Linked DNA regions of Homo sapiens: region 1 is linked to region 2. Evidence: fine-mapped expression QTL. A gene starts in region 2. The other region holds a variant in brackets. All regions are shown on one strand. Distances are between the middles of the regions.

Region 1 (5,379 bases), 54 kb before region 2:
TCTCCCCATTTCTCTCCCTCTCAGCTCCTGGAAACATCATTCTACTTGCAGAGTCCCCTTGATTTGAAGGCTGAGTACTGATCTGCAGTATTCAGCAATGAGGAAACTACCCAGGGCCAGGGGAAAAACCACCAGAAAGGAGGAGGCAGGAAAAATCCCTTGACCTCATATAGGACTGGGAATAGTTTGGGTTCCCAGCAGCCAGCGTGGAAAGATCTTATAGGGCATTGTGTAGGGTCCTCAGAAGGCTATTGCCTCAATAATGGGCTCAAATTAGCCCTAGGCTAGTGGCTGTTCTGGGCCTGCCATAACAAAGCTTAAAAGGAAGCCTCTCACGCCTCTGCGCTCCAGCCTGGGCGACAGAGGGGAACTCCGTCTCAAAATAAATAAATAAATAAATAAATAAATAAATAAATAAATAAATAAATAAATAAAAGCCTCGGAAGAATCAAACCAATTCCAAATAACTTATCTTGTCCCAGAATAAAACTCTTGAAATATTCAAAGTAATACAAGAAAGTCTATCACCTAATAAAGTAAAATCCACAATGTCCAGGAGCCAATAAAAAATTATCAGGCATGCAAAGAAGCAGGAAGAGATAACTCATGATCAGGAGGAAAACCAGTCAAAAGAAACAGACCCAGAAAACACACAGATGATGGAATTATTAGACAAAGATGTTAAAACAGTTATTACACATATACTTCCTATGCTTAAAAAGTAAAGTATAAACATGATGAATAGGAAAATGGAAGATATATAAAAGACCCATATCGAGATGGGTCTAGAGATGAAAAATTCAGTACTGGAAATTAAAAATAAACTGAATGACATGAACAGGTAGATACTACAGAAGAAAATATCAGTGGATTTGAAGGCACAGCAATCATTTTTTAGAAACTACGAATGAAACACAGAGAAAAAGAGACTGAGAAAAAGTGAATTAGTGAGCTGTGGGGTAATATCTAGTGACTGAACATGTATGTAATTAGAGTCTCAAAAGATACAGCAATTGGGAGGTAGAAAGAAAAAATGCTGGAAGAAATAATGATCAAAAATTTTTCCACATTCGGCCAGGCATTGTGGCTGATGACTATAATTCCAGCACTTTGTGAGGCCGAGGCAAGAAGATCGCTTGAACCCAGGAGTTTGTTACCAGCCTGGGTAACATAGTGAGAACTCCTGTCTCTAAAAATAAAAACAAATTAAAAAATTTAAAATAAATTTTCCAAATTTGATTGAAACTACAAGCTTACTGGCCCAAGAAGTTCAATGAACTTCAAGCAAAAGAAATGTTAAGGAAATGACACTGGGCCGGGCACAGTGGCTCACGCCTGTAATCCCAGCACTTTGAGAAGCCAAGGCAGGCTGATCACCAGAGGTCAGGGGTTCGAGACCAGCCTGGCCAACATGTTGAAACCCCATCTCTACCAAAAAGACAAAAATTAGTCAAGTGTGGTGGCACGTGCTTGTAATCCCAGATACTACTCGGGAGCCTGAGACAGGAGAATCGCTTGAACCTGGGAGGCGGAGGTTGCAGTGAGCCAAAACTGTGCCACTGCACTCCAGCTTGGGTGACAGAGTGAGACTACATCTAAAAAAAAAAAAAAAAAAAAAAGAACACATCCTAATCAAAAGACCCAAAAGCTGTGCAAATAAAAAATTCTAAAGGAGGTGGTGAGGAATATGCCTTCTTCAAGGATTATTCAACTTTTGCAGCCTGATTTCTGCAAGTTTGGGAGCACAAGACTTGCTTTATTTTAACAAAAACTTTTTAGGCCAGGCTTCCTGAGGTTTCTCCAGCAATAGTTATGCTTCAAAGGCTTACAAGATGGCTGGGCGCCATGGCTCACGCCTGTAATCCCAGCACTTTGGAAGGCCGAGGTGGGTGGATCACAAGGTCAGGAGTTTGAGACCAGCCTGGCCAATATAGTGAAACCCCGTCTCCACTAAAAATACAAAAAGTAGCCGAGCCTGATGGCAGGCGCCTGTAATTCCAGCTACTTGGGAGGCTGAGACAGGAGAATTGCTTGAACCCAGGAGGCGGAGATTGCAGTGAGCTGAGACTGTGCCACTGCACTCCAGCCTGGGCAACAGAGTGAAATTCTGTCTCAAAAAAAAAAAGCTTACAAGACAGGCTGGGTGCGGTGGCTCACGCCTATAATCCCAGCACTTTGGGAGGCTGAGGTGGGTGGATCACCTGAGGTCAGGAGTTTGAGACCAGCCTGGCCAAAATGGCAAAACCCTGTCTCTACTAAAAATACGAAAAAATAGCCGGGTGTGGTGGCGGGCACCCGTAGTCCCAGTCACTTGGGAGGCTGAGGCTGGAGAATGGCTTGAACCTGGGAGGCGGACGTTGCAGTGAGCTGAGATAGCCCCACTGCACTCCAGCTTGGGTGACAGAGCAAGAATACATCTTAAAAAAACAAAAGCTTACAAGACATTTAATCTGTTTGCTTCTTCTATTCAGTACCATGTGCCAATAGCCACAGCCAGGATTCTTTTCTAGACAGAGTCCTTAAGCCTATTTTATCTCTTTTCTTCCCTACCCCAAACCCTCTTTTCTCAATTTAGTGTCAGTTGTCTTGAAACTATCTGAAACAATTGGGCAAGATTGAAAGAAGATCTTTGTCTGACTGAAATGTCTCAATGACAGTCCTCTGAGCTACAAGTCTTGTCTCGGCTATTACGGTATTGAAGCAGTTGGCTTTTAGAAATCTTTAAGTCCTCAAGCTTCTGGACTCTATTCCCTTCTTTCACTTGCAAACCAGTAGATTCTAGTCTGAGCTCATCTCTTTTTTGAACATACCTAGCCAAAAACAGCCAGCAGCAGCCAACTCACAGTTACATTCTGGCTCATTCCATCTACCTTCCCTAGAAGTACCAGTACCATAAGAGTTGTGTCTGCCTGTCAAGTTA[T/C]CACAGCAACAGTTTTACCAAATATTTTGCCATGGCATAGGAAGAGGCTCCGTCTTTCAGTCAGTGATATCAGTTCCTAACCTCCTGCTGTGCATCTACTAAGCCAATCCCTCTGTTTTAGGTGTTGGATTTCTAAATTAGGGTATGTTAAGCTAGTTTATTAAACAGATCCAAAATGTAATAGTTTACACCCAATATAAATTTTTTTGCAATTTACCTAACAGTCCAGAGGCATCTAAGTAAAATGTTCAAAATCTGTAGGAGCAGGGTTGGAGAAGAGGTGACTCAGCTCCACATGGTAACTGAAGGACTCAGGATGCCATCTTCAACACATGGTTTCCAAGGACACTCTCAGCATGAACCTCCCAGTCATCCAGAGAAGAAAACAGCAAGAAGTCTTCACTGGTAAGGCATGAAGTGGTTCACATCACTTCTTTTCCCATGCAAGTGGAGAGAACTTAGTTGAATGACCACAATGAACTGCAAGGGAAACTAACTATGAGAGTGAAGAATGGATTTGGCGAGACAGAGGTCCATCTCCATCATTAATACAAGCACTGTATCAGTCAGAGTTCTCCAGAGAAAAAGAAATAATAGGATAAAAAGACAGGGAGAGAGATTTTAAGGATCTGGCTCATGTGACTGTGGGGGCTGGCAAGTCTGAAATTAGTAGGGCAGGCTAGCAGGCTGGAGATTCAGGATAAGAGTTAAGTTGCAGTCTTGAGTTGAATTCCACAGGGCAGCAATTTGGAAACTAAGTTACGGTTTCTACATTGCAACCTTGAGAATTTCTTCTTCTTTAGGAGACCTCAGTCTTTGCTTGTGAGGCCTTCAGTTGATTGGATGAGGCCTATACATGTTATGGAATGTAATATGTGTTACTCAAAGTCTACTGATTGTTAAGTGTTTATCACATCTAAAAAATAACAGCACAGCAACATCTGGGCTGGTGTTTGACCAAATAACTAGGTCCCATAGCCTAGCCAAGTTGACACAAAGTTGACCATCACAGATAACCAAATATTGACAATGGTTACCTTTTGGAATCTGAAGTAAGGGAAGGTGCATGAGGACGGCATAGGGAAGAGAGGCACAGATTTTTGCTTTTCATTTTATACCTTCACAGATATTTGTATTTGTACCAAATGTGTATATTGCTTTTTTACAATTGTTATTTTTAATAAGAAAGACAGAACTTTGTGGATTGAACATGTGAGCCTGAAAAGAAAAAAGGCCCTTTTTTTTCTTTTTTCTTTTTTTTGTGACAGAGTCTCACTCTGTTGCTCAGGCTGGAGTGCAGTGGTGCAATCTCAGCTCACTGCAACCTCCGCCTCCTGGGTTCAAGCGATTCTCCTGTCTCAGCCTCCCAAGTAGCTGGGATTACAGGCGCACGCCACCACACCCAGCTGATTTTTATATTTTTAGTAGAGATAGGGTTTCGCCATGTTGGCCAGGCTAGTCTCAAACTCCTGACCTCAGGTGATCTACCCGCCTTGGCTTCTCAAAGTGCTGAGATTATAGGCATGAGCCACCGCACCCAGCCAAAAAAAGGCTTTTTGAAAAAGAGGATGAGGCAGTGGGTAGCTAGGAGCACATCGACCCTGCCTCTTGGTCCTCAGACAAGAGAAGAGAAACAGCAGCGTCTGCTCAAAAGGGTTGTGAATTATCATGGATTATCAGATATATTTGTGTAATTACATTGACATTTCCCTCATAAGAAAGTTAGGTTTTTAGTTCAAGTGGTAGGAGTATTCTATGATAAAATTGAGAATCTAGCAAAGTCTCAGCAAAGAACAGGGGCTGCAGAGGACACATTGAAAATTAAATACAGAGCAAAGGTGAGCCAGGATGGAGGAAGGCCTCGGCAGACTGGAGACATGCGATAAGAAAGACAATGGTCCCAGGAGAAGAGGGACAAGGGGGTCAAAAGGCATGCCAGAGAGACCCTCCCAGATCTACCTGCTCTCTTTCTCTCCTATTTTTAAGATTTCTCACCTTGTCGAGGGGGAAACAAAGCCTTTTATTGTTTTTTGTTGTTTTGTTTTTACATGGAAGTTTATTGAGAAGCTTGAGGAGTGGCAGGAGAGTCCAGGAATAAAAAAATGTAATAATACTTGCTGTGCATTTACCAGGTCTATGTCTTCATGTTCAACCACAGGGAGCCTCTCGTTGGCCCCATTAGAGGACCCATTCTTATTTATTTATTTTTGAGACAGGTTCTCATTCTGTCTACCAGGCTGGAGTGTAGTGGCGTGGTCTTGGCTCACTGCAGCCTCGACCTCCCTGGGCTCAGGTGATCCTCCCACCTCAGCCTCCTGAGTAGGTGGAACTATAGGCACCTACCACCATACCCGGCTAATTGTTGTATTTTTTTATAGAGACGGGGTTTCACCATATTGCCCAGGCTGGTCTCAAACTCCTGGGCTCAAGCAATCTGCCCACCTCAGCCTCCCAAAGTT
Region 2 (5,379 bases):
CATAACAAATTGATGCGTGGATATATGAATCTTGTATTAAGAAGAGAGGGCCACAGACATAAATTTGGGAGTCACTGGCCAATACAGCCAAAAGATAAGTTCACCAAGGAAGTGAATGTAGAGAAAAAAACTAAATTTTGTGTCACTCCCAACAACGGGAGGTCAAGAAATGAAACCATCAAGTAAATTGCAGAAGAATGATCAGTAAGGGCTGGGCACTGTGGTTCATGCCTGTAATCCCAGCACTTTGGGAGGCCTAGCCGGGAGGATCGCTTGAGCCCAGGAGTTTGAGATCAGCCCTGGCAACAGAACAAGACCTCATCTCTCCAAAATATCAGCCAGTCATGGTGGTGTGCATCTGTAGTCCCAGCTACTCAGAAGTCTGAGGCAGGAGGATCGCTTAAGCCTGGGAGGTCCAGGCTGCAATGAGCTCTGAGGGGTGACAGAGTGAGACCCTGTCTCAAAAAATAAATAAATAAATAAAAAATAAAAAAAGGATGACTAGTAAGATGGAGAGCAGCAAAACCGAAAGTATGGTGTCCTGGAGCCAAATTAATAAAGCATATCAAGGTTTCTGGCTTACACTACTGGAAGCATGGAGGTACCCATCACCAAGATAGGGAAATCCTGGAAGAATATCACGTTTGTGAAGGTAAAGATAACGAGTTTGGCCCAGATATGCTGAGGTACATAATCAACACTGAGTAAATTAAGGAACAGTAAGCTGTAATTTTAAAAGCCTGAGTCTGGTCTCTAATTCTTTGTTTGCTCTGTGACGTAAGTTGTCATTATCATCCTGAGGCTCAATTTTCTTTCCTATGACATGGAGGTAATATTTATACGAGTAACCACAAATGGTTGCTGTGTAGATCAAATATGGTAATTTAAGAAAAAAAACTTCAAACCCCTATGAAGATATAAGAAAAAGTCACAGAATACAGAAAGTTGTAGGAATTCTAAGAAACAAAAGTTATATTTAATCCTTATAAGGAAAAAAAGAAGAGAGAAAACTAAATCAGGCCTATAAGGAACCATTCACCCTGTACCTTTAGCTGAGTCCTGTGGAATTCCTGCTTTATTTCAAAGGTAACAAACCCTTCTTGTTTTTAATCTTTTCCTTAAACACCTCTTCAACTTTCTAACCCAACTGAAACTCGGCTTATCTCTGAAGACACCACTTACCTTGACACCAGTCATAATGACATATCATCCTCCAAACATGCCTTAAATGTTAAGATTTCCATATTTTTGCTCATATGTTATTTCTTTACCTGGAATTTCCTTTCCCCATTTCATTCTCTATCCAAATTCTAACTATCCACAAGGAACTGCAAGGCCATCAGCATCATGAAGGCTACCATGGTTCCTCACAACTGAATGAAGCCTCTTCTTCTTTTTTTTTTAAAGACAAGTCTCACTATTGCCCAGGAGGCAGTGTAGTGACACCATCGTGGCCCACTGTAGCCTCAATCTCCTGGGCTCAAGGGATCCTCATGCCTCAGTCTCCCAAATAGCTGGGACTATAGGTGTGTACCACCATACCCAGCTAATTTTTTCTGTAGGGACGAGGTCTCCCTATGTTGCCCAGGCTGGTGTCAAACCCCTAAGTTCAGTCCTGCCTCAGCCTTCCAAAGTGCTGGGATTAACAGGAGTAAGCCACTGCGCCAGATTGAACCTCTTCTTTAGAACCACCACAGCACATAACATGTATCTGCTACGCCCCTCACTTCCCTCTAGTTGGTATTACACATTTTGCATAAAAGTCTTCTATTTCTAAATAGGCTTCAAGTCAGGTTCATCTTTGTATCAGCTGGTGCTCTTAAAATATTTATTGTGAACATGGACTTAATGAGCTTGACGTGTTGAAATTATTTCTAATGTGTTGCCATACTCACATTTTTTACTCTGTTTTTCCACTTCTGCCTTCAGTCTCTTGTACTTGTCTGTCCTGTAAACCAGGACCCAGGTTATGCCTAAAACATTAAAAGCAACATGTTAATAGAGAAATGACTGGAATGATCACAACAAACAAAGTGGTTACTGTTGGAGAAGGAGGAATTCCAACTTTTCGCTTTGTATTTACCCATAGTTAACTTTTTTCAAAGGCTAATACAACTGACTCTTCAGCCAAAACAACAGTAACATGATGTGAAGGTGTCTCCACAAATACCCAAGTGAAATCTACCTGAGACCAAAGAAAACTCGGCAATCGACTCCATACTCCCCTCCTGCTCCTGTTCACGAGTTGCCCAGAGATTCCCTGAAGTGGAGTAGATGAGCCTCTCAAGCAAGTAAGGCTCGCGATCTTTCCCCTGGTGGCACAGGGGACCCCGGGGCCCTTCCTCCCGGGGACTGATCAAACGTCTGAGAAATACCCGCTCTCACCCTCTGCGAGCAGAGCCGTGCACACAGAGATAAAAACGATGAGGAGAGTGTCCGCGAACATAGTGCTCATCTCGCACCTTCGTCTCTGCACTCTCACCCGCCAGGGGGAAAGCGCTCTACAGCCAGGAAAAGTGAAGCGAAAACGGCTTCCGTAGACTCCGCCACCACCGAGTAACAGACCAACTCTGACAGCCCGAAGATCGCACTTCCGCTTCCGGGGCATAGCACCGGAAAGGCTCGTATCGGAGAACGGTGTGGCCACGAGAGTCTAGAGGAAACCAACCCGCAACTCACTGGAGCTGAAGGGCTGGTAGTCAGGCCGAATCTCGCGAGAATTGGAACTATTTCAGAGCCAGAGGAGGATAGTGGCGGCGGCGAACTTTGCCCGGTAGATTTTACTGACTGGGGTGCTGGCGCGCGCCTTTTTCTCGGCCAGAATCCAGTTATTGGGATAGTCTTGACTTCTACCTCAGCCCAACTTCTGTGGTCGTAATATTAGTTTAGCTTGGGTTTGCCGTGAAGTAAGAAGACTGACTTCCGCAAAGGTACTGAACGACTGGGTGTAGGTGCCAGGGCATGGACGTGAAGCTGGAACCGCGAAATGAGTTAGTTGTGGGCCGCTGGCCTCAAGGAGCGAACGTCAGCGCGAAGAGGAGAAGCTTGTGCATACGCTCTGATAAGGGTTTTAATAGAGGTATTACCACAGTGCTGCGTGACACGGTTGAGAGAGTGGTCAGAAGAAGCTAATGAAAGGAATTGAAGCAGTGCCTTAGGGGAGTAGGAGTACTTTTGGAGATAGCAAAGGACTTTCTAGGCAAAGTGGAAGTCAAAGCACGGATGCCTGAAAATTCATAGTGTGATAGTGCAGTGAGTAATGTATCTAGAGAAGGGGTCTTAAACCCAGATGCCTAGACTGGCGAGAGAAAATAAATTATCTTATGCAAGCTGAGCCTAAACAAATGGTGGAAGTTACTACGATGGATAAGTGAGCATTAAGTTCATCTGAAAGGAGAATTTGATACCCAAATCCAACCCATTTCTCTAGGAGAATGAGCACCCAGTTTCTGAGATGTCTTCGTTTCTCAGGAAAATCCAGAAATCCTGGGTTTTATGTGAAACTTAATTTATAAGTGTTGCTAACTAATTAAAATTCAAAAATGTCTCAGCAGCGTGGTTTCAGCCATTGTAGACGGTTTCAGCTTTTTCACACTGGGGTGTGTGTGTGTATGGGTGAAAACCTGGAAGCTGGCTGAGCTGTATCCTCTTGTACTTCCTCCTATCATTGGTGTTTTTTTGTTTGTTTGAGATGGAGTTTCACTCTTGTTGCCCAGGTGGAGTGCAATGGCACAATCTCGGCTCACTGCAACCTCTGCCTCCGGGTTCAAGCCATTCTCCTGCCTCAGCCTCCCAAGTAGCTGGGACTACAGGTGCCCGTCCCCACGCCCAGCTAATTTTTTGTATTTTTAGTAGAGACGGGGTTTTGCCATGTTGGCCAGGCTGGTCTTGAACTCCTGACCTCAGATCCACCCACTTCGGCCTCCCAAAGTGCTGGGAATACAGGCGTGAGCCACCGTGGCCGGCCCTCATTGGTTCTTTTAAACTGTACTGCACTTAAATATATAATTCTCCTAAACACTACTTTTGACTTTTTTTTAGCTTTATGTGCATTTCTTGTCTCCCAGACTTAGCAACAGAGACCCTGTCTCCTTTTTAAGAAACATTATTGAGCTTCTACTATATGTCAAGAACTGTGGTAGGCACTGTAGGGTCAAAAGGATGGTTAAGAGAATATTCCTGACTTCTAAGGGCCCAGGGAGATTATATAATATAATAAGATTATAGGTATTATAGAGGTATTCTTAAAATGTTGAGGGGGTACAGATGAAAACAAGATGTATTCTTCCTGGGGAGTTGGAAAGGTTTCAGAAAGATCATATTTGAGCTAGACCTTTATTTGAGCAGTTCAGACAAGGATAGGTTTTTATTCACCTTTGTATCACCCAAGGTAAGTGCTGAGATAACAATAAGAGCATGATCTTGGAAATCAGACCTGATTTTAAATTCTTGCTCTGCCACTTACTTGACAGCAGTCCTAGAACCTATTGTTTAGCATCTTTGAGCCTTCAAAATGGTGGTAACATCAGCTATGAAGACTGGATGAGGAAAAGTATATTATAAAGCATTTCAAGCAGTGCTTGGCACACACAATTCATCAAATTCAACATGCTATTCATTGTAAGACGCATCATTATTTTATCTACTACTAAAGAGGAAAAAATAACTAATTAAACCATGACACACCATTGATTGTAAGAAGAATCCCATTCAGAGATGTTAAAATATGAAAAAATGAGAAAATATGAAATATATTAATAAGCAGTTAAGTTATTCCTGTGTAAATGTTTACAACCATGGACTGCTAGGATACACTTCCTTTTCTAGGGTAATGATGTCATGACACTATGCCCCTTGTTTAAGAACAGTGCTAGAAGTCAGGCGCGGTGGCTCACGCCTGCAATCCCAGCACTTTGGGAGGCTGAGGCGGGCGGATCACGAGGTCAGGAGATTGAGACCATCCTGGTTAACACGGTGAAACCCCGTCTCTACTAAAAATACAAAAAAATTAGCTGGTCGTGGTGGTGGGCGCCTGTAGTCCCAGCTACTCGGGAGGCTGAGGCAGGAGAATGGCGCGAACCTGGGAGGCGGAGTTTGCAGTGAGCCGAGATGGCGCCACTGCACTCCAGCCTGGGCGACAGAGCAAGACTCGGTCTCAAAAAAAAAAAAAAAAAAAAAAAAGGAACAGTGCTAGAGACAAGTTCAGATAACATCTTTTCTAGATTCTACTAGTTTTCTTTGTTATATTCCCAAATTCTCTAAGCTCTTAGTTGTACTATCTAATTTTTAGATTTCAAAGCTTTCCCCATGAGGACTGCTCTCCCAAAGCTCACTGACCTCCTCCAATCTCTAGTACAATAGGAAGACTTTTGTCCTGGG

What was found. PIP is the estimated chance that this variant, and not a neighbour inherited with it, causes the effect. A credible set is the group of variants that fine-mapping cannot tell apart.
Region 1: its variant is the best candidate, but not a certain one, in a credible set for the expression of TMCO1 in T cells (TOPMed, PIP 0.59).

The regions. Positions count from the first base shown.
Region 1 is chr1:165,712,550-165,717,928 of GRCh38, forward strand. No RefSeq gene overlaps it. Among named protein-coding and RNA genes, the nearest start is that of ALDH9A1, 17 kb to the left of the region's middle. RefSeq lists a silencer at 2,469-2,669. The variant T/C (reference allele first, on the strand shown) is at 2,921.
Region 2 is chr1:165,766,297-165,771,675 of GRCh38, forward strand. It overlaps TMCO1 (transmembrane and coiled-coil domains 1), which reads right to left and starts at 2,572. Exons shown (of 7, transcript NM_019026.6): 1 at 2,386-2,572; 2 at 1,896-1,973. The coding sequence starts at 2,455. It overlaps TMCO1-AS1 (TMCO1 antisense RNA 1), which reads left to right and starts at 2,633. Exons shown (of 3, transcript NR_125374.1): 1 at 2,633-3,079. RefSeq lists enhancers at 2,183-2,859, 2,860-3,535.